Homo sapiens: one gene and its partners. The protein of the gene in region 3 interacts with the protein of the main gene of each other region in a pairwise test. Each region holds a gene or a part of one and is shown on either strand. Other genes may lie near its edges. The genes, in order: TMEM230, CXCL14, PROM1 and AIF1L.

What was found.
Region 1: the proteins of PROM1 (region 3) and TMEM230 interact in a protein complementation assay, tested with the Homo sapiens proteins (one study listed by IntAct).
Region 2: the proteins of PROM1 (region 3) and CXCL14 interact in a protein complementation assay, tested with the Homo sapiens proteins (one study listed by IntAct).
Region 4: the proteins of PROM1 (region 3) and AIF1L interact in a protein complementation assay, tested with the Homo sapiens proteins (one study listed by IntAct).

What each region holds. Positions count from the first base shown.
Region 1 is NC_000020.11:5,103,071-5,110,100, forward strand, and holds part of TMEM230 (transmembrane protein 230), read right to left. Parts: intron 6,376-7,030; coding exon of another isoform or gene 6,361-6,375; coding exon 6,262-6,360; intron 3,241-6,261; coding exon 3,118-3,240; intron 1-3,117.
Region 2 is NC_000005.10:135,570,162-135,576,004, reverse strand, and holds the end of CXCL14 (C-X-C motif chemokine 14 precursor), read left to right. Parts: intron 1-1,319; coding exon 1,320-1,433; intron 1,434-4,136; coding exon 4,137-4,152; 3' UTR 4,153-5,326; downstream 5,327-5,843. UniProt on the Homo sapiens protein: Potent chemoattractant for neutrophils, and weaker for dendritic cells. Not chemotactic for T-cells, B-cells, monocytes, natural killer cells or granulocytes. Does not inhibit proliferation of myeloid progenitors in colony formation assays.
Region 3 is NC_000004.12:15,969,006-15,976,035, reverse strand, and holds part of PROM1 (prominin-1 isoform 1 precursor), read left to right. Parts: intron 1-4,953; coding exon 4,954-4,969; 3' UTR 4,970-4,993; intron 4,994-6,667; 3' UTR 6,668-7,030. UniProt on the Homo sapiens protein: May play a role in cell differentiation, proliferation and apoptosis. Binds cholesterol in cholesterol-containing plasma membrane microdomains and may play a role in the organization of the apical plasma membrane in epithelial cells.
Region 4 is NC_000009.12:131,106,531-131,113,560, forward strand, and holds part of AIF1L (allograft inflammatory factor 1-like), read left to right. Parts: intron 1-5,066; coding exon 5,067-5,133; intron 5,134-7,030. UniProt on the Homo sapiens protein: Actin-binding protein that promotes actin bundling. May neither bind calcium nor depend on calcium for function.

The DNA of each region.
Region 1 (7,030 bases), on a different chromosome or scaffold from region 3:
AATTCTACATCCACCGGGTGTGGTGGCTCACGCCTGTAATCCCAGTACTTTGGGAGGCTAGGGTGGGCCTCACACTGACCATAATTAACACACAACGGGAAACATAGTCAGAGGGGTGCAGTGGCTAAAGCCTGTAATTCCAGCACTTTGGGAGGCTGAGGCAGGAGGATTGCTTGAGCCTAGGAGTTTAAGACCAGCCTGGGCAACATAATGAGATCTCATCTCTACCAAACAAACAAAAAAATTAGCTAGGTATGGTGACTCACACCTGTAACTCCAGCTACTTGGGAAGCTGAGGTGGGAGGATCGACTGAGCCCTGAAGATTGAGGTTGCAGAGAGCTGTGATCACACCACTGTACTCCTGGACTGCTTGAGTCTAGGAGTTCGAGATCAGCCTGGGCAACACGGCAAAACCTCATCTATACAAAAAATGAAAAAAAAATTAACCAAGTGTGGTGGCACATGCCTGTGGTCCCAGTTATTTGGGAGGCTGAGGTTGCAGTGAGCCGAGATGGTGCCACTGCACTCCAGCCTGGATGACACAGTGAGATTCTGTCTCAAAAAAAAAAAAACAAACAAAAAAACCAAAAAACAAAAAAACATACACTGGGGAAAGAACCAGTCTTTTCAATAAATGGTATTAGGAAAACTGGATATCCATATGCTGAAGAATGAAACTAGACCCCTCAAATCTCTTGACATATACAAAAATCAAATGAGAATGGATTAAACACTTAAATGTAAGACCTAAAACTATGAAACTACTATAAGAAAACATGGGGGAAACTCTCCAGGATGCTGGACTGGGCAAAGATTTCTTGAGTAATGCCCCCAAAAGCACAAGCAACCAAAACAAAAACAGATAAATGAGATCACATCCGGTTAAAAAGCTTCTGTACAGCAAAGGAAGAGACAACCCACAGAATGGGAAAAAATATATGCAAAGTATCCATCTGACAAGGAATTAATAACCAGAATATATAAGGAGCTCAAACTCTGTAGGAAAAAAAATCTAATAATCCAATCAAAAATGGGCATTTCTCAAAAGAAGACATACAAATGGCAAATAGGTATATGAAAAGGTGCTTAACATCATTGATCAAAGAAATGCAAATCAAGACTACAATGAGATATCATCTCATCCTAGTTAAAATGGCTTTTTAAAAAATATAGACACAAGGTCTCGCTATGTTGCGCAGGCTGGTCTCGAACTCCTGGGCTCAAGTGATCCTCCTGCCTCGGCCTCCAAAAGTGCTGGGACTACAGGCGTGAGCCACTGCACCCAGCCAAAATGGCTTTTATCCAAAAAAAACGGCAATAACGAATGCTAGCGAGGACGTGGAGAAAAGGGAACCCTCGTACAATGTTGATGGGAATGTAAATTAGTATAGCCACTATGGAGAACAGTATGAAATAGAACTACCATATGATCCAGCAATCACAGCTAGGTATATACCCAAAAGAAAGGAAATCAGTTTATCAAAGAGGTATCTGCACTTCCATATTTATGACAGCACTATTCACAACAGCCAAGATCTGGAAGCAACCAAAGTGTTCTTCAACAGACAAGTGAATAAAGAAAATATGGTACATATATGCAATGGAGTACTATTCAGCCACTAAAAAGAATGAGATCCTGTCACTTGCAACAACATGGATGAAACTGGAGAACGTTATGTTAAGTGAAATTAAGCCAGGCACAGAAAGACACACTTTCCATGTTCTCACTCATTTGCGGGAACTAAAAATTAAAACAATTGAACTCATGGATATTGTAGAATGATGGTTACCAAAGGCTGGGAAAGGTAGGGGGGAATGGGGAAGGTTAACGGGTACAAAATATAGTTACATAGAATGAATAAGCTCTAGTATTTGATAGCACAAAGTGACTAGAGAATAATTTATTGTACATTTAAAAATATAATAACTAAGGCTGGACGTGGTAGCTCACGCCTGTAATCCCAGCACTTTAGGAGGCCCACGCGGGCAGGCCGCTTGAGGTCAGGAGTTCATGACCAGCCTGGCCAACATGGCAAAAACCCATCTCTACTAAAAATACAAAAATAAGCCAAGTGTGCTGGCTTGCCACCATAGTCCCAGCTAACTCAGGAGGCTGAGGCAGGAGAATCACTTGAACCCACGAGCCGGAGTTTGCAGTGAGCTGAGATCCTGCCACTGCACTCCAGCCTGGGTGACAGAACAAGACTCTGTCTCCAAAATATATATATATGTATGTATGTATGTATGTGTATATGTATATATATAACTAAAAATAGGCCAGGCACAGTGGTTCATGCCTGTAATCCCAACACTTTGGGAGGCCAGCCTGGGCAACATGGCGAAACCCCATCTCTACTAAAAATACCAACATTAGCCGGGTGCGGTGGCGCACGTCTGTAATTCCAGCTACTCGGGAGGCTGAGGCACAAGAATAGCATGAACCTGGGAGGCGGAGGTTGCAGTTAGCCGATATTATGCCACTGCACTCCAGCCTGACTCTGTCTCAAAATAAATAAATAAATAAAAGTATAATTGGAATGTAATACAAATGATGAATGCTTGAGGGGATGGATACCCCATTTAGCCTGATGTGATTATTATGAATGCATGGCTGTATCAAAATACCTCATGTATCCCCTAAGTATATACACCTACTATGTACCCATAAAAATTGGAAAAAAAATTGGCCAGGGGCAATGGTTCACACCTGCAATCCCAGCACTTTGGAAGGCTGAGGCAGGCAGACTGCTTGACCTCAGGAGTTAGAGATCAGCCTGGGCAACATAGTGAAACCCTGTCTCTACACAAAATAAAACAAACAAAAATAAGTAAATAAAAAATAAAATTAGCTGGGTGTGGTGGCACACACGTGTAGTCCCAGCTACTCGGGAGGCTGAGGTGAGAGGATCGCTTGAGCCCAGGGAGGTAAAGGTTGTGCCACTGCACTCTAGCTTGGATGACAGAGCAAGACCCTGTCTCAAAAAAAACAGACCACTGGGACGGACAAACACACACACACACACACACACACACACACACACACACACACGCACACTAGAGCCTTGGCTAACATTTTAAAAATCTCACAACTTATTCCCACATGCCCGTCAGCTTACCCCTTTGCTGATGTAGCCTGACAGCAGGAGGGAGCCTATAATAATGAGAAAGGCGCCAATCAAAAACAGCACAGTGGCAAGTGCGATGGCCTTATAAGGGATCTTAGGAGGGGTTTTCTTAAACTGGAAGAGAAATAGAGATGAAAAAGACAACGAAGAACATTAATGCAAATACCTGGGTTCAAACATTTAATTAATTATTTGTAATTTTTATGTTTTTGTTTGTTTGTTTTGAGATGGAGTTTCGTTCTTGTTGCCCAGGCTAGAGAGCAATGGCGTGATCTTGGCTCACTGCAACCTCTGCCTCCTGGATTCAAGTGATTCTCCTGTCTCAGCCTCCTGAGCAGCTGGGGTTACAGGTGCCCGCCACTACACCCAGCTAATTTTTTTGGTATTTTTAGTAGAGACAGGGTTTCACCTTGTTGACCTGGCTGGGCTTGAACTCCTGACCTCAGGTGATCCGCCCGCCTCGGCCTCCCAAAGTGCTGGCATTACAGGCGTGAGCCACCGCGCCCGGCCTAATTTTTATGATTTTAGAGACGGAGTCTTGCTCTATCACCCAGGCTGGAGTGCAGTGGTGCAATTACAGCTCATTGCAGCCTCGAACTCCTGGGCTCAAGCAATTCTCTTGCCTCATCCTCTCAAGTAGCTGGGACTACAAGTATACGTCACCATGCCCAGCTAATTTTTAAATTTTTCTGTAGAGACGAGGTCTCACTATGTTGCCCAGGGTGGTCTCCAACTCCTGGGCTCAAGGGAGTCCTTCCACCTCTGCCTCCCAAAGTGCTGGGATTACAGGTATAAGCCATCAAGCCCAGTCTCAAACACTTTAAAACAGGGAGGAGAGCTCGCACCTGTAATCCCAGCAATGTGGGAGGCTGAGGCAGGCGGATCACTTGAGTTCAGGAGTTTGAGACCAGCCTGAGCAACATGGTGAAACCTCGTCTCTACAAAAAATACAAAAATTAGCCGGGCGTGGTGGCATGTGCCTGCAGTCCCGGCTACTTGGGACGCTAAGCTGGGAGGATGGCTTGAGCCCAGGAGGTGAAGAGGCAGCGAGCTGAGATTGCACCACTGCACTCCAGCCTGGGTGACAGAGCCAGAGCCTGTTTCAAATACAACAACAGCAAAAACAGGAGGGTAATTAAGAACCAAACTAGATACTTTATGTGTCTTAAGTATGTCCTACCACCCAGTGCAGCTCTGAGAAATAAAAGGGACTGGCAAGAGATGAAGCTCTAGTTATTGCTCTCACAGTTACTCAAAGGAATCTCAGAGGAATGTCATTCACTCTAGTTCGAATCTCATTCCATAAATCATTCATTGTATCATAAGAAACTTTTCTTTAAAACAAAAACAGAAATGACTTTACAGTCATTCATTTGTTAGATATATATTTATTAACTGCCTGGCACATAGATGGCTGTACTAACTTATGGGGATTTAAGAGATCCTGTCTCTACAAAAAATTTTAAAATTAGCTGGGTGTGGTGGCACATGCTTGTGGTCCCAGCTATTCAGGAGGCTGAGGTGAAAAGACTACTTGAGCCCAGAAGGTCAAGGTTACAGTGAGTCTTGATTGTGCCACTGTACCCAAGCCTGGGCAAAAGAGCAAGACCCTGTCTCAAAAAAAAAAAAAAAAGGCTGGGCGCGGTGACTCACGCCTGTAATTCCAGCGCTTTGGGAGGCCGAAGTGGGTGAATCACTGGAGGTTAAGAGTTCGAGACCAGCCTGGCCAACATGGCGAAACCCCATCTATACTAAAAATACGAAAATTGGCCAGGCATGGTGGTGCATGCCTGTAATCCCCCAGCTACTAGGGAGGCTGAGGTACAAGAATCACTTGAACCAGGAGGGGGAGGTTGCAGTGAGCCAGGATTGCACCACTGCAGTCCAGCCTGGGCAACAGAGCAAGACTACATCTTAAAAACAAAACAAAACAAAACAAGAGGCTGGGCAAGGTGGCTCACGCCTATAATCCCAGCACTTTGCGAGGCCGAGGCAGGATGATCACCTGAGGTCAGGAGTTCAAGACCAGCCTGACCAACATGGAGAAACACTGTCTCTACTAAAAATACAAAATTAGCTGGGCGTGGTGGCGCATGCCCGTAATCCCAGCTACTTGGGAGGCTGAGGCAGGAGAATCGCTTGAACCTGGGAGGCAGAGGTTGCAGTGAGCCGAGGTTGTGCCACTGCACTCCAGCCTGGGAAACAAGACTAAAACTCCGTCTCCAAAAAAAAAAAAAAAAAAGGAAAAGAAGGCAATTTCAGCTTATTCCAAATGATTAGTTGTTTGTTCCACATAGCAAGTAAACCTGCCTTATGAACAAATTCAATTCAAGGTTAAGATTCAGAGACAAATTTTCCAAGGTTTGGCTCATCGTTGTATCTGACCTAAGTGGCTGGAAGCTTCCCAGATCTTTCCAGATCTATTTTTATCTCTCCTTCAAATGTGGGTCCAAAGAGTAATTTATTTATTTATAAAGGATGGTTTCCTGCTACTTCCTCGTTGGCCCTAGTTCCACGTAGAACATTCTATTGTAAGGGGAAGTGTGCAAAAGGAGATGCTGTAGTATTGACTAGTTTATAAATGGTTAGGGTAGGATACAAACTTAATAAATACTGTGTTTTACTTACTATTTATCACAAAGAATACCTTTAATAAATTGGATCTCATGACATCAGGAAAGAAGGAAGATTCCCACAATCTGCTGGCTTTAGTAATAAGTTTCTCCCTTAAAAGGTGAACGGGCTTTGACTAAAGTGTAAATAAACAGTGATAAAAAAAATTCCACCTAACAAAAATTTTAAAGTTCCTTAAAAAAAGAAACAACAACAAAAAACTCCACTTAACAAAACACAATCTGATTAGTTTCTGAATAAAGTAAATAAAACCTGTAACTACAAGGCTCTCGCATTACAACTAAAAATTCTTAGAAATGGACAATACTGGAATTGGTTTGAAACTACCCTGCCACGGCCCTCTTCTGCGATTATGGCTGAAAGGGTCTCAGAGCTGAGTTTTCTTCTTGTTGCTCCTTCTAATCCCCAAGGACAGTTAGCAAAATCTCCATCTGGAAGGTCTTCCTGCTAACTTAACAGAAACACAGCCAGTCAGTCTTGTCAGTTCTCTTCTGCATTTACCTGAAGGTCAATGTAGCCATCGTCTGTGCTGGAGAGCCTTGAATATTTCACTTTACTACTGGGGATTCCAGTAGCCAGGTTGGTACGGGACGGCATCATAACACGCTGACACAGCTACAGTTTAAAAACAAAAAACCCGTTATTGTCTGTAGATGACAATGGTGCATTATAGCCAATGAGTTCAGGATTATTAGATGCTGTGCACTGGAGTTCTGGGCTGCCATGTCAGACTAGCAATGGGCAATTTACACTTCACTGCTAAATTTTCATTGTGTCAGAGGCATATGCATATGGAAAACCAGATATGCCTCTGACACAGTGAAAAGATTCTCACTATGTATTAAATATCTAGTCTGGTCTGTCCTTGTAGAATGACAGTGAAGACACTCACCAAGAATCACATTCCAGTTTATTTTGCCACCAAGATTCCCTGACTTTTAATTTTTCCAAAGTCACATAGAGACTAGGTAGAATAATGGGGACTTAAATCTAGGTCCACCTGACACCACAGCATTGCCTGTCCCCTGCTCCCGCTCTTAAGAAAAAGCAAGAGGAGCATATACTCAAATGATTCTCTTGTTTGACAGGGAGGGAGAAGAGGGCAGAGAATGGAATACACTCACATCAGCATTTTGCCTATTTCCCCTTGATAGAGATCAACCTTTTAATGCAAAAGATCTGTAAAGTTTCTTGCCGTAAATTTGTGGGGTTTTTTTGTTGTTGTTGTTTGTTTGTATTTTTTGGAGACGGTGTCTTGCTTTGTCACACA
Region 2 (5,843 bases), on a different chromosome or scaffold from region 3:
CTGAAGTAATGGGAATCCTGTCCCTTCTAGAACTTAGCCCATATAAGCCATGACATTTTCCATTTGGTTAACAGTGGGGAACTAGCTGACCTCTGTCCCTCTCTTCTCACTCTTTCCACTCTCACTTCCAGTCTCCCCCTTTGCCCTCCAAGCCCATTCCAGCACCCCAGTCTACCATCATGGCTTGCATGGCTGTGACCCCTCAAGAAGTGGCATCCTCACCTCTCACCTTGCACTTTTCCAAATACCCTAGGTGGTCTCTTATTCCCCACAACTCCTGTCATGCCTGTGGCCTAGAGGTGCTCAGAAGTTCTGAGCAGCAGGCTTGCCTCGCCCTCCAGGCTGGAGCCCCCACAGCAAGGCTACTCTTTCCCCTTGGCCACTTCATCTTCCATGACCAATGACTAGTAACAGTAACTGTTAATTGTGCATCTACCAGGTCCTGGGTACTTTCTAAAGATTGTATCTTTTAATCATCCCAATAACCCTGTGAGATAGTCCTATTATTATACCCATTTTACAGATGGCCAAACTGGATTCAGAGAGGTTACCCAAGGTCCCACAGCCAAATTTGAGATTCAGTCCCAGGCCCTTACAGTCTGCACAACACCTGCTTCTCTACCACATGGCTAGGCTTCTGCTGGGTGTTGGGACATTGGCTGATAGAGGCCTGAGATCTTCAGGCTGTGCAGAAGAGAGGTCTTACTCTTCTGCTTAGGGGTGAGATACCTGGGACCTCCCACAAGGCCAACAAGACTTTGCCTCAGGATCAGGAGATGCCCAGCCCTGGGACAATCTGTGGTGGGTCAGAGGGAACTGGGGTTGAGGAGACAGAAATCAGAGTGTCTGCGGGGCATGTCTGAGCCTTGCCATGAGCTCCTCAAATCCAAGGACAGAGGTTTTGGCATGTGCACCTTGCTGGCATTAGCTTTCTCCACCTCCTGATCCCAGGCTCAGAGAGGCTGGGAGTCCTCTGACCTTTGTTCCCCAAAAGAGGCCTGAGCCCTGGAGACAACACACTGCATGAGGTTGGGGGTGGGAGAGACCATCCCAGACTCTCAGGACTCCCAGGGGAAAAGTGAGGGCTGCTCACTACATACAGGGTTAGGCCCTAACATGGAGTCAGAGAATAAGGGGACAACCAGAACCTTCCAAAGAGCCAGCTTGGAAGTGAGCACACAAGTCGGCTCCCTTGAGAGGAGGCAGGAAGCCACAGTCTCTCAGGGCCCTGACTTAGCCCAGGGCTACTCACAGGCCACACAAGAGGCAACATGTTATTCAGGCTCCTCAACCCTCCACCTCATCCTGCTCCGTTTCAGCATCACCACCAAGAGCGTGTCCAGGTACCGAGGTCAGGAGCACTGCCTGCACCCCAAGCTGCAGAGCACCAAGCGCTTCATCAAGTGGTACAACGCCTGGAACGAGAAGCGCAGGTACGCCCCGCCTCTACTCACCTTCCTTCCCACCAGACCCAGCTGTGGCTCTCAGGATGGGAAGGGACCCCCCCACCAGGTCATCTAGCCCCATCTAATATGTGAACACCCACCACAACATCCACAGCAAACAGATACTCAGACAATGCTTACATACCCCCAGGGACAAGGAACTCACCACTTACCAAAGCTAGCTATCCATCTCTTGTCCATTTGCAAGCATGGCAGGTTTGTCATTTTGTAAACTAAAGTCTGTCTCACTCTAATATTTGCATTATAATCTTAATTCCTCTTTTTATTTCAGTTACGTAAGTTGTTAAATGGCAGAGTGAGCACTGGCATGGCTGCCAGGGGAGCTCTGAGGACTTCAGTGGGGTGAAATGTGACCACTTAGGTGACTGTGTATGTTGGCTATAAAACTGCGCTATAAAACCATGAGGTGCTGAGGATGATCCTTGCCAGAAACATGTTTTCTTCTCCAAGGTGCCCCACTCCCTCTGCTGCCCAGAAACCTGATAAACTCCTTCCTTCGCAGGTGCTGGAAGGCACCACAGGTTTGGCTCTTTAAAATCAGAGCCACTGTTAACCAAGGCGGGCAGCAGTGTTAAGACCACCAGCACCCTGAACCAGCCCTGTACTTACTGGGCACTGTTTCCTTAAAATCAGAAGGTGGCTTCCCATCTCTGGTTTCCTGGGGTCTTATGTCTGTCCTCGGAGGGAGAATCCAGTTCCTAGCTCCCCTGTACCATGCGAAGGTAGCCTGTCCTGTCTCACTCCTCAGATACGCAGAGTCTGTTTACACATTTGCCTGCATAGCATGATCAGGAAGCACACACACACACACACACACACACACACACACGCATGCATGCACACACCATGCAGGTGACTTCCCCAGGAACTAGTGCCAGCACCCCTGCTGCAGAGGGGGATATCAAGGCTAAATGGAAGAGAGGGGTGACTTGCCTGGGAGCACAGGGCAAAGCCAGGACAGCAAACCAGGCCTCCTGGTGCTACCCCACCAGCTGCCCTCACAGGGTGGAAGGTACAGCCATAGTGGGTGCCTGCATTGCCCTCCCCTCACCTGGCCCAGCCATGCTACCCCAAGCTCAGCCCTGTGACCAGCTCTCCCAGAGCTGACACTCGGGCTCAACCCCTATACCTGAGCCTTTTTTGCTGCCTCCAAAACAGCCTCATCTGCAGTTGCTTGAAATAGAAAGTGATGAGAGCAATAAATTATTTTCTATAAATCTGCTGGGAATGAAGCCCTCTTTCTGGTCAAGCCAGGCAGCTCATGTGGCAAAGGCCAGAACTGCGCAGTCCACACTCTGTCACCCTCCAGGCCCTGTGTCATCAAAACTGGCAGAAGGCTAATCCCATGGGCAGGTTATGGAAGAGGCTGAGGGCATCTTGATCTGATTGCTGGGGGATACTCAAACCTTTAGCTCACCTTGCTTCTCCCCTCCACCTGAGCTGCAGCCTGGAAAAGGAGGCACCCACAGGTCTAAACATGGCCCTGCTTTTTTTTTTCCTGAAAATTCCAATAACAAAAGCAACGAGAGCCTCTCACTACCAGGCCTTCTCTCACTTTGCTATAAAATTAGTTCACCCCTCTTTCTTAGAGTGTTGAGGTCCCTGCCCTCCCCACCTCCCTCCCCTGAAACAAGTTGAAAATATCTTAATGAACATAGAACAGTGATAAAGGAAGTGTTTGAAGTCCTCTTTGTACAGAGAGAGAGAGAAAGAGAATGCCAAAGCTAGGTTGGAGGAAGTAGAAGGGTATACGGTGGGCTCAGGCCCATGGGGGCCACACAGAGGAGCTCTGTGCACTTCAGAGACCAGAGCTTCCAGGGAGCTTCTGGCCACCACAGGAAGCAGCCTAGTCAGGCATTTTATTTCAATGGATAATTCAGTGGTCTTACTCAGAAATCAAGAACGAGACAGAAAAGTGATAGGCTAAGTGTAACGTATGGCCCCAGGGCAGCCATGGGGCAGAACTAGAAGAAAGCAAAATATCTAACTGGGCACAGCTTGAGAGGTGAGGGGAAGGTGGGGCTGGGAACGAGTAGAGATGAGGCAATGCAGCCAGGAGCAGGGACTGAGGGGCACAGGCCTCCTGCACCACTGCCCCACCCCACCAACCACCTCTTCTGTCTCCAGGAAGCAGCTTCTAGAGCTAGCATTCTTCTGGAGGACATGCATTATTTGGGCAAAATACAAAGAAATATACAAGCCTAAGTCAAGTAAGGGAATGCCTCCCACCCTTGCTATTTTCTCTAAATAGAGAGGCTGAGTACAGACGCGGAAAGAAACAAGGAGGTGTGGGAGCAGCCCGCCATGCTAGAGAAAGACTACATTCCTGCCACTAACAGTCGGTGGCCACTGGGCAAATCTTAAGTCTGTGGTGCCTCAGTTTCCTCATATGCAAAGCGGGTTTGTTCCATAGGCCTCTGAGGACAAAATGAGATTGCAGAAGTGAGATTGCAGATGGTTAGAAAAGACAAAGCCACACTGGTGTGAGTTTTCATGGTCCCCGGGACCACATCCTCAGAAGGATCCCTCCCACTTCTCCTGGGGGTTCCTGCAGTTCTGGGACAGGGGCATTCCCTGCAGACCAGACGTGAATGAAGCCGCTTAGCCAGCATCTTGTGAACGGCCTGCCTCATGTCCTGAGCCACTTACACATGTGTTTTTTCTCCCCAGGGTCTACGAAGAATAGGGTGAAAAACCTCAGAAGGGAAAACTCCAAACCAGTTGGGAGACTTGTGCAAAGGACTTTGCAGATTAAAAAAAAAAAAAAAAAAAAAAAAAAAAAAAAAAAAAAAAAAAGCCTTTCTTTCTCACAGGCATAAGACACAAATTATATATTGTTATGAAGCACTTTTTACCAACGGTCAGTTTTTACATTTTATAGCTGCGTGCGAAAGGCTTCCAGATGGGAGACCCATCTCTCTTGTGCTCCAGACTTCATCACAGGCTGCTTTTTATCAAAAAGGGGAAAACTCATGCCTTTCCTTTTTAAAAAATGCTTTTTTGTATTTGTCCATACGTCACTATACATCTGAGCTTTATAAGCGCCCGGGAGGAACAATGAGCTTGGTGGACACATTTCATTGCAGTGTTGCTCCATTCCTAGCTTGGGAAGCTTCCGCTTAGAGGTCCTGGCGCCTCGGCACAGCTGCCACGGGCTCTCCTGGGCTTATGGCCGGTCACAGCCTCAGTGTGACTCCACAGTGGCCCCTGTAGCCGGGCAAGCAGGAGCAGGTCTCTCTGCATCTGTTCTCTGAGGAACTCAAGTTTGGTTGCCAGAAAAATGTGCTTCATTCCCCCCTGGTTAATTTTTACACACCCTAGGAAACATTTCCAAGATCCTGTGATGGCGAGACAAATGATCCTTAAAGAAGGTGTGGGGTCTTTCCCAACCTGAGGATTTCTGAAAGGTTCACAGGTTCAATATTTAATGCTTCAGAAGCATGTGAGGTTCCCAACACTGTCAGCAAAAACCTTAGGAGAAAACTTAAAAATATATGAATACATGCGCAATACACAGCTACAGACACACATTCTGTTGACAAGGGAAAACCTTCAAAGCATGTTTCTTTCCCTCACCACAACAGAACATGCAGTACTAAAGCAATATATTTGTGATTCCCCATGTAATTCTTCAATGTTAAACAGTGCAGTCCTCTTTCGAAAGCTAAGATGACCATGCGCCCTTTCCTCTGTACATATACCCTTAAGAACGCCCCCTCCACACACTGCCCCCCAGTATATGCCGCATTGTACTGCTGTGTTATATGCTATGTACATGTCAGAAACCATTAGCATTGCATGCAGGTTTCATATTCTTTCTAAGATGGAAAGTAATAAAATATATTTGAAATGTACCAAAATTCTAGACTGCCACCTTTTTTCTATTTAATTAAGCTAGGATGACAATAAAATGTTTACCATGTCCTGAAAAAATAAGGACAAATATGCTGGGAAAGAAAACTGGTATTTCCCAAATACCTGTCAACACCATCACCTCTGTGGAACGTGTGGAGCTGTCATTACAGTCAGGAAGCCAAGAAGCCAGGCCTTGAGGCTAAGGCTCCTTCCCCGACGATTCCTACCCCTGCAGCAGGTGTATCAGAGCAGGCAGGTTGGAGCACAGGGAACTAGAGGGTCACGATCCCAGCCTCCTCCACGCAAGACCACACTGAGCCTCAGCACCAGAGGGCAGCAAAGAGGCTGGATGCCTCAGCCAAGGGCTCTCCAAGTTCCCTGGGGCTGCATAAGGACGGCAACAATAGAGGACTGGTGTAATTATTGCCTACTGTGAGCCAGACCCTGTGCGGGGAGCCTTACATGCCCTATCTCTTTGAATCCTGGTAACAACCACAACGGGGGTGGTTCTATTGAAGCTCC
Region 3 (7,030 bases):
TATACTAATGTTGGACGTCCTTCCTTAACGGTCCACAGCACACTTGAATTTTTTTCTACTTTCTATATTCTGTGTTCTATAGTAGAACTCCAAGGGTGGGTTGAAGTGTTTTGTTTCAGTAAGAGAAGAATCCCAAAGACTGAGTGACACCTTATGTGAGTTTCGCTGAAGCATCTTTCATGGTAACAATTAAATCGAGACTTGTTTTCATTCCTGCACACCCACCTCCAGTGGGAACCCTGGCAAGTCTCCTGGATGTTCAGCCCGTCTACAGGCAGTCAGTGAAGAATCATAGTTTTGATTTGGTTTATTTGCAGAAGGTTAGGAAATGACATCCCAGAAACTCTAGGGACATTGGGACACCTTTCTTTTCCACCCAGACCCTCCTAGAGGTCCCAGGGGTCTGAGTTGGAGTGGATTCTAGCTCTGCCTCCATGTGTCATTGTGGAAGTGCTATTTAATGTCCTTGAGACTCAGTTTTCTCACTTGTAGAAGGAGGGAATAATAAGAGCTTTGAGGCTGGGTGTGGTGGCTCACGCCTGTAATCCCAGCACTTTGGGAGGCCAAGGCAGGCAAATCACAAGGTCAGGAGTTTGAGACCAGCCTGGCCAACATGGTGAAACCTCATCTCTACTAAAAATACAAAAAATTAGCTGGGCGTAGTGGCGGGCACCTGTAATCCCAGCTACTTGGGAGGCTGAGGCAGGAGAATCGCTTGAACCCGGGAGGCGGAGGTTGCAGTGAGCTGAGATTGCACCACCGCACTCCATCCAGGACGACAGAGTGAGACTCCGTCTCAATAAATAAATAAAAATAAGAGCCTTGTTTGCGTAGGGTTGTGAGGGTTCAATGAGGTAACAAGGCAAAACATTCACCCTTTGACCACTGTAAACCCTTACTTAAGGGTTTGTGGTTCACTATAATGACCATAATCTTTTCTTATTACCTTAACATTTCCAATGGAAGGAACCCAAAGGTGATTCAGAAGATAACTAAGTGTGGCTCTAATCTGTTAGCTGAGCCAGCTCCACTTAGCTTCCATTGATGACACCAACTGGGCTCTGGATATTAGCCGACACCTCATGATACCTTCTGTACAAATGAGCCCGAATTGGTGCCTCCTTCACACAGCTTGAGACTGTGATTTCCCCCAGTGTTTATCGCCAACAGTTTTCAGGTGTTGCCTGCATTTCAGGACAAAGCTAGGTTTAGGAGGAAAATGATCAGTGCAAAGAGAAGGTGCTAGGCTATTCTAGAAAAGACTCTGGCTGATGCGGTGGCTCACGCCTTTAATCCCAGCACCTTGGGAGGCTGAGGACAGAGGATCACTTGAGCCCAGGAGTTCAAAACCAGCCTGGGCAACACAACAAGACCCTGTGTTTATAAATGAAAAAAAAAATTATTTAATGTAAGAACAAAAGAAAAGCCTTCTGCAAACCAGGACACTAGTACTTACCAAGTGAGGAGCAGTTTGACAACTAATATTGCTTCATGGAGCGTTTCCCAGGAGAATTCTCTTAAATAAGAACCATGAAGTGGGCTGCTTCTGAGTGGCAAACTCAGTTTCATAAACTAGTTTTTTTTGGTCTCTTTTTCTTTTATTTCTATTTATTTCTTAAACACACACACGCACACTGTAATTAGTCCATTATACAGTCTGTGGCTGTTTGCTTTTGTTTGAAGGAAAAGTTAATAGACTTTCATATAAACCTACGTAAGCCTGGATTTTTTTTTTCCAACGATGCTTCTGTCTCCCACAGTCTGCGGAGCAAGTGGAGGCATTTTCATTTCAGGAAATATTGGGTGACTTGTTTCTGAATCTTCTTCCTGGCCTTTCATGGATCACTAGAGGTCACTCGGATTGTGATCTTTCAGCTGCTAGGGAGTTCTTTAGAGAGAGAGAGAGAGAGAGAGAGAAAGAGAGAGAGTGTGTGTGTCTGTGTGTGTGTGTCTGTATGTGTGTGTGTAAACTTACTCTTTCTAGCTCTGAGATGAGAGATCAGGAGAGAAAGTTGCTTCCTGTGAGACCACAAAGGCTTGAGAGCAAACAAACACCAGTGTTGGTCCAGCAGCCCCAGGAACCGGGCAGGATGACCACCCTGCCTCATCCTGCGCAGTCCCCACATCGGCCCTCTATGGCTGTCGTCACCGCCTTGTTGTCTGTCTTTTGCAGATAGACTCAGGGACGTGTAGGCCATGCCCAGGTCTCTACAGCTAGCCAGGGCCAAGCTATGATTTGAGCTATTTCTCCTATTCTCCCAAAGGCAGGTGGGCAAAGAAAAGTTCCCAAAACGGGTGGAAAGACCACAGAAAAATTTGATTATTTTTCCCAGTCTTCACTCTGAAGACTATCAAATTGGCAGAAAGGGGAACAAATAAGAGGCAAGTGTTGCTAGAAACTCTATCTGAAAAGGACAGAAATCTGATTTTCATATGAAATTACCCTTTTTAATGTTAGCAAACAATGTGGAGAAAAAAACACCATGGGGGCCCAACAAAATATGTCTGTGAACCACCTTCTTGCTAGTTCGGCTGTAGATGGTGTTCATTGTGCATGCTCTGTAGATTCTTTGCTGTTGTTGTTGTTTGAGACACAGATTCCACTCTGTCACACAGGCTGGAATGCAGTGGTGTGATCTCAGCTCACTGCAACCTCCACCTCCTGGGTTCAAGCGATTCTTGTGCTTCAGCCTCCTGAGTAGCTGGGATTACAGGCACACACCACCGTGCTCAGCTAATTTTTCTGTTATTAGTAGAGATGGAGTTTCACTATATTGGCCAGGCTGGTCTTGAACTCCTGACGTCAAGTGATCTACCCAAATTGCTAGATTACAGGCATGAGCCACTGCGCTTGGCCAGATTCTTAGATAGAAGTAGGAGGGGTCCGCATGGCTGCACCTCTGCAGCCTAGAGGAGGAAGCAGGTGGATCCCGGGGAATGCTACATAAACAGCAGCTGACCCTCACCTGTGTAGGTTCTGGCTGCATAGGTCTTGTAGAGGGTGCTTGGAGCCCCTTCCCTTGTGTGATGTTTCAGGTTCTTCGGGGGCCAGGACCTTCCTTTTTCTGTGAAGGGGATAGTGCATCATTGACAAACAGATTCCACCTCCTGGGCCAACTTCTCTCTGTTGTCCGGCTGCTCAGAGCCCTGTTGTGTTGTGTTGATTGAAATCTGGAGGTTTAATCCAGACTGACTCAAAAGTACTGTCATCAGTGTGTGATGTCTACTCTGGAGACAGGAGAGTCTCAGATGTCATGTATTGGCCTTCTTTATTTTATTGCTTTATTGTGTTGGGCACCCAGGAAGTTATCATTCAGAGCCCAAATCCTAATGGCCTGAAGAAATGTATCCTCCAGTTATGGTCTCACCTAAGGCCCTTTGTTTCTCTTACATCAGGAGCTTCCAGGATTAGTTTTAGTTACTTGCTATAGTTTCAGTGTCCCCTCCAAAACTCATGTTGAGATTTAATTGCCATTGTGACTATATTAACAGGCGAGACCTTGGACAGGTGGTTAAGTCATGAGAGTTCTGCCTTCATAAATGGATTAATGCCATTATCATGGGAGTGGGCTCCTGATAAAAGGAGGAAGCTCGACCCCATTCCCTGTCTGTCTCTTGCACTCATTTGCCCTTCCATTATGGGATGATGCGTCATGAAAGCCCTCACCAGATGCCAGCACCAGGTTCTTGGACTTCGTGGCCTTCAGAACTGTGAAAAACATATTTTTTTCTTTGTAAGTTACCCAGTCTCTGATATTCTGTTATAGCAGCAGAAAACATACTAAGACACTGCTTAAATTGGCTTGTTTTGCTCATTTCCTGCTTCTGAGGTCTCCAGAGTTCCCTCTCTTCCAGGATAGGATGGATATACTGTCTGGAGGAGAGGCAATGCTAGGCAGGAGGAGAAGAACCAGTGATCCTGTTAGTGTGCCCAGCATCCCTCTGCTCAATAAGGCAAATGTAGATGTTCTTTGGAAATGATTGCCAGAGCCTACAGTCCTTCATAATGTTCAGCTCCAGGTCCTGGTGAGGTGGACAGTAACAAGAGATTGAGCCAGCCCCTGCTTGCACCCTTTTCCAGGGGCCCTTTGAGCCCTTTCGATAAAGAGTTTGTTTCTTTACCGAAAGCATAAAAGGTAGTGCAAGAAGAGGCACACAGAACCAAGCATGTGCACTTTCTAAAGTGAAAAACTTTAGAAGGAATGTCTTGCCTGGCAGATGCCCTGATGTCCTCCGTGCATGTCCTCCCCCAACCTCATGTGTCTGATGCAGCACTGCAGTGAGGCACGGTGGATCCTGCAGGTTCAGAGGGGTTGTGATCCACCTGAAGTCACAGTCGGGCAGGGTGTGCCAGAGTTGAAACTGCCGACCTTCCAGATGGAGTTCACTAGTCTCCCCCTGGCGTATACCTTTTTGGTTGTCAAGGCCATTATCACAGAGTCACTTTAGAGGACACTAGGGCTACTGTTGATGGTTCACCCAGAGAGCCACTTAGAGGCCGTGTGCACTGCCTGATCTTACACCCAGGAATTTGTAGTTGTAACAAGGTCCCTGCGGAACTTCCATTTGCTTCTGTCTTCTGTCCTAGAAGTGGACTTTAGAAAGACTCTTGTGGTAGACATGTGTACTGCTGTGTTGCTGCTGGTCTAATGTCTTCAACACGTATTCTTAGTGACTCTTAACACTTTTAACCTTAGATTGTGAATATTCACAATTCTTACTTGTCATAGTCTGTTTATCCTCTTTATCTTCTATGCTGTTTTTAAAAGCAATACAAACAGAAGCTAGAGTAACCAGTGTTTTGTCTGACACATTCTTCTTGATAAACTTTATGAGGTGTGGTTTATATTCGTCTGTACCTTTAGTCACATGCCTGCTTCTTAGCACAGAGGTGATGAAACCACCCACAGCTTTGTTGGGGGTATTATATTTCTTTATTTTTTTGTTTTTTAGCCCATCACAACATTGATAGCTGATGTTGAAACTGCTTGAGGTAAGTTTGATGCTTTCATTGAAGAGAATCTACAGGACTATAGTTTTTAGTTTTTAGAACATCAAAACATAGCTATTCCTAATACATTGCCACATTAAGTGGGAAATCTAGATCAGCATATTAGACAAGATATTTTATATGTCCAGTCCACCCTCTGTACCTGCAGGTTCCACATCCACCGATTGATTCAACCAACTGTGGATCAAAAATACTCTAAAAAAATTTTTTTTTAAATAACAGTACAAAAATAAAAATAATAAAAACAATACAGTATAACAGCTACTTACATAACACTTACATTGTATTAGGTATTTTGAGTGATCTAGAGATGATATACAGTATGTAGGAGGATGTGTGTAGCGGTCCTGGAACCAATCCCACATGGATCCAGAGGGACGACTGCATGTATACATACGATACAGTGACCCTCTCTGTATATATATGCATTGCTATATAAATGTGTGTGTATTTATATATATATATACACACACACAGTGAGTATGTGGGTGTATATTAAAAAAATAAAATTTTTTTACTTAAAAAGATAAGATTTTTTAAGTAAAAAAATAAGGGCTGGTGCGGTGGCTCACGCCTGTAATCCCAGCACTATGGGAGGCCGAGGCGGGCAGATCACTTGAGGTCAGGAGCTCAAAACCAGCCTGGCCAACATGGTGAAACCCTGTCTCTACTAAAAAAAGTTAGCCGGGTGTGGTGGGGGGCCCCTGTAATCCTGCCTGTAATCTCAGCTACTCAGGAGGCCAAGGCAGGAGAATCGCTTCAACCTGGGAGGCAGAGGTTGCAGTGAGCCGAGATCACACCACTGCACTCCAGCGTGGGCAACAGAGTGAGACTCCATCACAAAAAAAAAAAAAAAGAAAAGAAAAGAAAGTGTTTTTTTAGAGTAAAACAATAAGCCAGGCATGGTGGTACCTGCCTGTAGTCCCAGCTACTGGGGTGGGAGGCTGTGGTAGAAGGATTGCTTGAGCCCAGGAGTTCAAAGATGCAGTGAACCATGATTATACCTGTGAATAGCCAACACACTCATGCACTCCAACTTGGAAAATGTAGTGAAACCCTATCTCTAAACAAACAAACAAACAAACAAAAATATAGAAATCTGTGTACCAACCACGTACCTTGAGTATTATGGACTTAAAATTTTTTCTGGCTGGGCATGGTAGCTCATGCCTGTAATCCCAGCACTTTGGGAAGCTGAGGTGGGCAGATCACTTGGGGTTAGGAGTTCGAGACCAGCCTGGCCAACATGGAGAAACCCCATCTCTACTAAAAAATATAAAAATTAGCCAGGCATGGTGGCAGGTGCCTGTAGTCCCAGCTACTTGGGAGGCTGAGGCTTAAACCCGGGAGACGGAGGTTGCAGTGAGCTGAGATCGCGCCATTGCACTCCAGCCTGGGCGACAGAGTGAGACTCCCTCTCAAAAAAATAAATAAATAAAATAAGATAAATAAACAAAAACCACAAAGTTTTTTTCTATATTGCTATATTTTAACAGATTGCTTTGCAACAAACATATTGCTGTGCCTCTTGAACGAGTTTATATTTTCCTTAGTTCTTAGGCTCCTGGTGGGGACCATTTTAGGATTATGCATTCCTGGTTTTCTCTTTATTAATTCAAAAGCAATTTCTAAAATTGTGTTTAACTTTCATTTCAGCATCAGGATACTCAAAGTGGAAAGGATCACAGATTTTTGGTAGTTTCTGGGTCTACAAGGACTTTCCAAATCCAGGAGCAACGCCAGTGGCAACGTAGTGACTCAGGCGGGCACCAAGGCAACGGCACCATTGGTCTCTGGGTAGTGCTTTAAGAATGAACACAATCACGTTATAGTCCATGGTCCATCACTATTCAAGGATGACTCCCTCCCTTCCTGTCTATTTTTGTTTTTTACTTTTTTACACTGAGTTTCTATTTAGACACTACAACATATGGGGTGTTTGTTCCCATTGGATGCATTTCTATCAAAACTCTATCAAATGTGATGGCTAGATTCTAACATATTGCCATGTGTGGAGTG
Region 4 (7,030 bases), on a different chromosome or scaffold from region 3:
CTAGCACTTTGGGAGGCCGAGGCAGGCAGATCACTTGAGCCCAGGAGTTTAAGACCAGCCTGGGCAACAGAGGGAGACCCCATCTCTACAAAAAATACAAACATTAGCTGGGTGTGGTGGCATACACCCGTAGTTCTAGCTGCTCTGGAGGGCTGAGGTGGGAGGATTGTTTGAGCCCAGGCAGGTCGAGGCTGCAGTGAGCTGTGATCGTGCCAACAAAGAATAAATAGGGTCGGCCGCATTGAGAAGGTGACATTCGGCCGCATTGAGAAGGTGACATTGAGGCTGGGTGTGGTGGCTCACGCCTGTGATGCCAGGAATTTGGGAGGCCGAGGCAGTCGGATCACCTGAGGTCAGGAATTTGAGACCGAACTGCTCCATATGGTGAAACCGCATCTCTACTAAAACAAAAATTAGCTGGACGTGTTGGTGCGCACCTGTAGTCCCAGCTACTGGGGAGGCTGAGGCAGGAGAATTGCTTGAACTCGGGAGGGGGAAGTTGCAGTGAGCTGAGATCGCGCCACTGCACTCCAGCCTGGCGACAGAGTGAGACTCCGTCCCAAAAAACAAAAATAAAACAAAACAAAAAAGACAAGGTGACATTGAGCAAAGGCTTGAAGTTGGTGAGGGAGAGAACCACGCAGATCTGTGGACTCCAGGCAGGGTGCACAGCTAGTGCAGGGTGCAGCCCAGGGCAATCTTCCCAACCACTGCTGCCGTTCATGCTGTGCACGTGGCCTTGCTCTTCATCCCTGCCTGGTTGGTCTGTGTCTGTCTGTGTGCAATTTGTCTCTAAGGCCAGGGACCATGTCCTTCCACTTGCACCCATCCACCTACAGAGTGGCCCAAGTAAAACTGGATCTCTAGGGCTGGTCGGTCCAGGCTGAGGCAGGATTTCTGGTCAACCAGACCCCAGGGGCTGGGACAGCCCCTCCAAATCTCTCCCCAGAGGTTCCCAGATGTTGGTGCTCTTGTGCCTCCCCAGGAAGGTTCTCTAGTTCTTGGTAAAGTGAAGGAAATGCAGGGTCACTGTGGTGAGTTGGACCTAGGCTGAATGGATTCCATTTAAACATTCAGAGATGGTGAACTTCCTACTTTTATGAAATGTTCTTTTCTGAACTCATGGCAACAGTCAATGGCCATTGTTTAAAAAGTCTTTACTTGGCAAAATAAAAAGTTGGCACTCGTATATTAGTGCGCCCCTCTGCCCCGCCTTTAAAAATGTTTCATGTCTGCGTGACCCCAAAGTCTGGGAATCACTGATCTAATATGTCCCTTCACTGGGCAGATATGGGATCTGGGACCCTGGGAGGTGCCTGGTTTGCTCACAGTCACAGACAAAAGTTAATTGTCCTCCTTTTGGGCAGAGGATGGGGTGAGGGAGCAGTGCCGAAGAGCTATGAGAGGGAGCCAAGAGGAAAGGAAGTCCTCGACAGAGCCAACTAGGAGGAGGGCGGCCTCCCAGGCTGCCGAAGAAGGATCCAGCGTCAGCTAAGTGGAGGCGGGGCCGTGCCCAGTGCATTGCAATGAGGCCTGGAGTGAGGCTGTGGCCAAGCCAGCAAGACCCCATAGGCCCTGGGACTGCCCTCTGCCCAGGTGCAGGAGGACACAGGTCCTGGAGTCAGATAGACCCAGGTTCGAAACCAACCTTCCTTAGCTGTCTGTGAACCTTTTTTTTTTTTTTTTTTTTTTTGAGATGGAGTCTGTGGCCCGGGCTGGAATGCAGTGGCACAATCTCGGCTCCCGGCAACCTCCACTTCCCAGGTGCAAGTGATTCTCCTGCCTCAGCCTCCCAAGTAGCTGGGATTACAGGCACACGCCCCCATGCCCGGCTAATTTTTGGACTTTTAGTAGAGACAGGGTTTCACCATGTTGGCCAGGCTGTTCTTGAGCTCCTGACCTCAAGGGATTTGCTCACCTCGGCCTCCCAAAGTGCTGGGATTACAGACGTGAGCCACTCACTGCGTTTGGCCTGTCTATGGACTTTAGATGTGGTATTTAACCCCTCTCATCCTCATGTTTTAACTTGTAAAATGGGAATAATAGTGGCTGTGAGGATTTAGTGAGATAGCACAGTGTCTGCTACAGCCAATGTTTTACCAAAAGCTACAGGACAGCCAGACCCCTCTCCCAACCCAGTGAGGGAAGCCCTGTTGCCAGGTAGGTTTCTCCTGTGGTCAAGGGGTGCTGAGTTAATGTGGAGAAATTTGAGCCATAGAAGAGGCCATATTCTGCCTCATACTCATAATCTTATCTGTTGCTCATTGAGAGCTGAACTATGAGCCCAGTGCCCAAGGAGTGGGTACTATTGAACCTATTTTAGAGCTAGTAAAAAGGGAGACTGAGATCCAAACCCAGATTGCTTTATAGTCAGTTAGTTCTTGTCATCCTCTATTCTGCTTGAAGCCTCTTAGGAGTTTGCAACAATAGACTAGGAAGGTAGTGAGTTCTCTGTCCTAAGAGATATGTAAGAACAGACTTGGCCATCATGTATTAGGAAGTAGGTCAAGTGATTAATGTGGGTGACATTGCACATCATTTTAAACACCAGCTTTCTGTAATTTCAGGATAAGGACCTTGTCATATTCACCATGGTCTCCTCTGCTCCCTTGATGCTAGCACAGTGAGTGCTGTGTGCACTGTGTCCCCCCAGAATGTTGAATGAGTGAATGAATGAATGAATGAATGAATGAAGGAGCAATGTCCATGTCCAGTGAGCTCAGTAATGAAGAATGGAAGGTCCACTGGCCGGGCTCAGTGGCTCACACCTGTAATCCCAGCACTTTGGGAGGTCGAGGTGGGCGGATCACATGAGGCCAGGAGTTCAAGACCAGCCTGGCCAACATGGTAAAATCCCGTCTCTACTAAAAATACAAAAATTAGCCGAGCATGGTGGCACACTCCTGTAGTCCCAGCTACTTGGGAGGCTGAGGCACAAGAATCATTTGAACCTGAGAGGCAGAGGTTGCAGTGAGCCAACATTGCGCCACTGGACTCCAGCCTGGGTGACAAGAGCGAGACTCCGTCTCAAAAAAACAAAAACAAAAACAAAAAAAGAATGGAAGCTCCAAAGAAGAGGGGTTATTTGCAGAGTTCGAGTGGTAGGAGGGGAACAGGCCCTGTGCTTCCCCATCTGAATACAGGTTCCAGGGCTGCTGAAAGATTAGCCGCAAGATACATAAGTTACCTGGCACTGTATCTGGCAGGTGTTCCCTCATTGGTCGCTTTTTGCTGTAAGGTCAGAGACCAGGCCAGATGAACACCTGCAATCTGCCCACCTTTAAAGAATGTAGGGGCTAAGGATGCAGGCTCCAAATGAGATGGAGCCGAGTTGAAGCTCTGGCTTATGAGCCTCAGTTTCCTCACCTGCAAAATGGGTATAATAATAGTAGCTACTGGCCGGGCGCCGTGGCTCACACCTGTAATCCCAGCACTTTGGGAGGCCGAGGCGGGCAGATCACTTGAGTCCAGGAGTTTGGGACCAGCCTGGGCAACAGAGTGAAACCCTGTCTCTACAAAAAATACAAAAATAAGCCAGCCGTGGTGTGGCGCCCATCTGTAGTCCCAGCTACTCAGGAGGCTGAGGTGGGAGGATCACTTGAGATCGGGAGGCGGAGGTTACAGTGAGCTGAGATTGCATCACTGCATTCCAGCCTGGATGACAGAGCAAGACCCTGTTTCAAAATAATAATAACAATAGCTCCCTCTTGGGACTCCTAGGAGATGTGAAGAGATCACATAGGTAAGGGCTTCACCCTGGAGGCCATTGTTAGTGTCCAATCCTCCCCACCCTGCCCATCTGGTCCTGAAAGGACTCATTTGAGTCTCTCCAAGCATCTGAAGGGAAGGCAGGCCAGAGATTAAAACCCCCATTTTACAGGTGAGGAAACAGGTGAGAGGGTAAGTGTACAGTCATTTTCCCGTTAGAGCAGAGACGACGAATTCACACTCTCACTGGATTTCTTTTTTCTTTTCTTTTTTTTTTTTTTTTAAGATGGAGTCTCTCTCTGTCTCCCAGGCTGGAGTACAGTGGCATGATCTCAGCTCACTGCAACCTCCACCTCCCAGGTTTAAGCTATTCTCCTGCCTCAGCCTCCCAAGTAGCTGGGATCACAGGTGCCCACCTCTATGCCCAACTAATTTTTGTATTTTTATAGAGACGGGGTTTCACTATGTTGGCCAGGCTGGTCTCGAGCCCCTGACCTCAGGTGATCGGCCCACCTTGGCCTCCCAAAATGCTGGGATTACAGGCGTGAACCGCCGCACCTGGCCTCACTGGATTTCTATACAAACTCAAGAAGCAGATCATGATTCTCATTTGGTAGATAAGGCAATAGAAGTGTGGGGAGGGCCGGGCGCGGTGGCTCACACCTGTAATCCCAGCACTTTGGGAGTCTGAGGCGGAGGGGTGGGAGCGGGGGGATCAACTGAGGTCAGGAGTTCGAGACCAGCCTGGCCAACATGGTGAAACCCCGTCTCTACTAAAAATACAAAAATTAGCTGGGCATGGTGGCAGGCGCCTGTAATCCCAGCTACTGGGGAGGCTGAGGCAGGAGAATCGCTTGAACCCAGGAGGTGGAGGTTGCAGTGAGCTGAGATCGCGCCATTGCACACCAGCCTGGGGGACAAGAGCAAGACTTCTTAAAAAAAAAAAAAAAAAAGTGCACGGAGGAATGAATGAGCTCAGGATCACATTCCTAAGAAGTTAATGATGGAACCAGGGGCTTGTCTTTGGAGCTCACAGCTTCTCGGATCTGAAGCTGGGGTGTCTTGGGGGAGGGGCACGGGTCCCAGCATTGGTAATGTAGCTGCTGGCTGGAGGGCTTAGTCACCCGTAGTGAACCCTCTGGGGCCTCCCCAAGCTGCTGGGCAAACTTCCTACCCACAGGGTGGCCAGTGCAGATCTGCCTCCAAGGGGCGACAGGAAGCCGGGGTGAACAAGGGACAAACTGGGTCTGGTCGCACCTGGTTACCCGATAGGAGGGAAGGCCCCCGGACAGTGGGCCCATGTGTGGGTGACTTCTGTCCCCAGTCCCTTGCTCAGCACTGTCCTCTCACCTCTGTAGGAGTTTCTGTGTGACCAGAAGTACAGTGATGAAGAGAACCTTCCAGAAAAGCTCACAGCCTTCAAAGGTAAGCTGGGGCGGGCTGCCCTGCATTTATTCCTGGGGGAGGTGGGCTGGCCCCTCATCCTTGCACACAGGACCCCTCAGCCCCACAGGACTAGGCTGTGGCCCTGTTTTGTCCAGAATGCCCTTCTTCCTGGAGAAGGCTTGGAGACAGGGACCCCCTGAGAGGTGGGGAGAGGCCCCTCCACCTGCCTCCCTGCCCCTGCGGGCCCCGTCACCCCTCGCCTGCAGCCCGGTCCTGGCCCTGCCCCTCTCTCTCCCCTCACTGCCCACGGGGCTCAGGCTGGTTCCCGTCCGCCGCTGCCCAGGCCCCGTCACTCCCGGGCCCCGCACACAATCAGCTCTTTGTGAGCAAGCCTTGCCTCTCCCCCTCCCCAGCAGAGCGTCTCAGGAGCCCCTGCGGAGAATGGACGTTTGTGTCACCGCAGTGGGGCAGGGGGGCAGAGTTTCTGCCCATTGAAACCCGGCAGCACGGGATGAAAAGAAAGCAGGGCCTGGGAGCCGGCGCGGGGAGAGGGGCAGCATAAAGGTCCCTCTGTTTGGGGCCCTGGCGCTTGGTTCCCAGCCAGCACCTCGAAAGGAGAGGAGCCGGGCACATAGGGGGCAGCGCAGACCCACCTTCCCTGCCAGGGGAGGCACTTAGGCGCAGGAGCCCTGGGCTGTCATGGAAAATATCCTGGAGGTTGCATTCCCCTCCAAAGTGTTTGCAGTGTGAGCATCCTCCCGGCTCCAGGGCAAAGAACTTGGCCAAGTGTTCCTCAAATCACTTCCAGTTGTCCTTAGGCTGGACATCTAGGGCTAATCATATTAATAACAGCTGGCATTTGTTGGACGTCGGCCTGTGTGAAGCACTTCTCGTGCGGCGTGGCGAGCTCCCCACATCACCCCAATCGGCCTGGAGGAAGATGGCGCACTTGTTAATGTGCAGATGGAGAAACTCGGGCTTGGAGGGCGGGGTTGTTGGCATGGGGACACATAGCTCGCCTAGGGCAGAGTTGGGACTTGAACTCATGTCGGTCTGGCTCCAAAGCCCCTGCTCTCAACTGTTACGCTATGATGCTTTTTACATGAAGAAGAGAGAAGGGAAATAGTAAAAGACACTCCTGACCCCACCCCATCCCAGCCACCTGTAGGAGAGCTGTGAAAAAGAGAGCAGTCTATTCCCTTCTGTCTGCATACCAGCGTGGCCACTCCCAGGGGTGGCTCTGGGAGGAGGCACGGGTCTCAGGGCTCTGGCACCCTTTCTACTTGTCTTCACTGGAATGTTGGGCCAGACAGGAAGTTACATCATTCACTCATTTGTTCTCCAAATGCGCACCTGTACATGTGCCAGGACCATTCCAGGCCAGGGGCACCATGGTGAACGTAAAAGGCAGCTCCCACCCGGGAGCCTGTGTTCTCGCTCGGGGGGCGGTGTGAGAGGTGGTGGGAGACTAAACAGAGAGCCGGGAAATACAAGGTTAGCAGACTGTGGTAGGTGCTTCAGTGAGAAATGAGGGAGGGAGGACAGGAGTGCTCAGCTGTGGGGAGGGGGTGCAATTTTGAAAGGGTGGGGAGGCCAGGCACGGTGGCTCACACCTGTAATCCCAGCACTTTGGGAGGCCGAGGTGGGTGGATCACCTGAGGTCGGGAGTCCAAGACCAGCCCGGCCAACATGGCGAAACCCCATCTCTATTAAAAATACAAAAATTAGCTGTATGTGGTGGTGGGTGCCTGTAATGCCAGCTACTCGGGAGGCTGAGACAGGAGGATTGCTTGAACCCAGGAGGCAGAGGTTGCAGTGAGCTGAGATCAAGCCACTGCACTCAAGCCTTGGTGACAGAATGAGACTCCATCTCAAAAAAAAAAAAAAAAAAAAAAAGCATAATGGTTAAGAACGGGGGCTTTGGAGCCAGACTAAC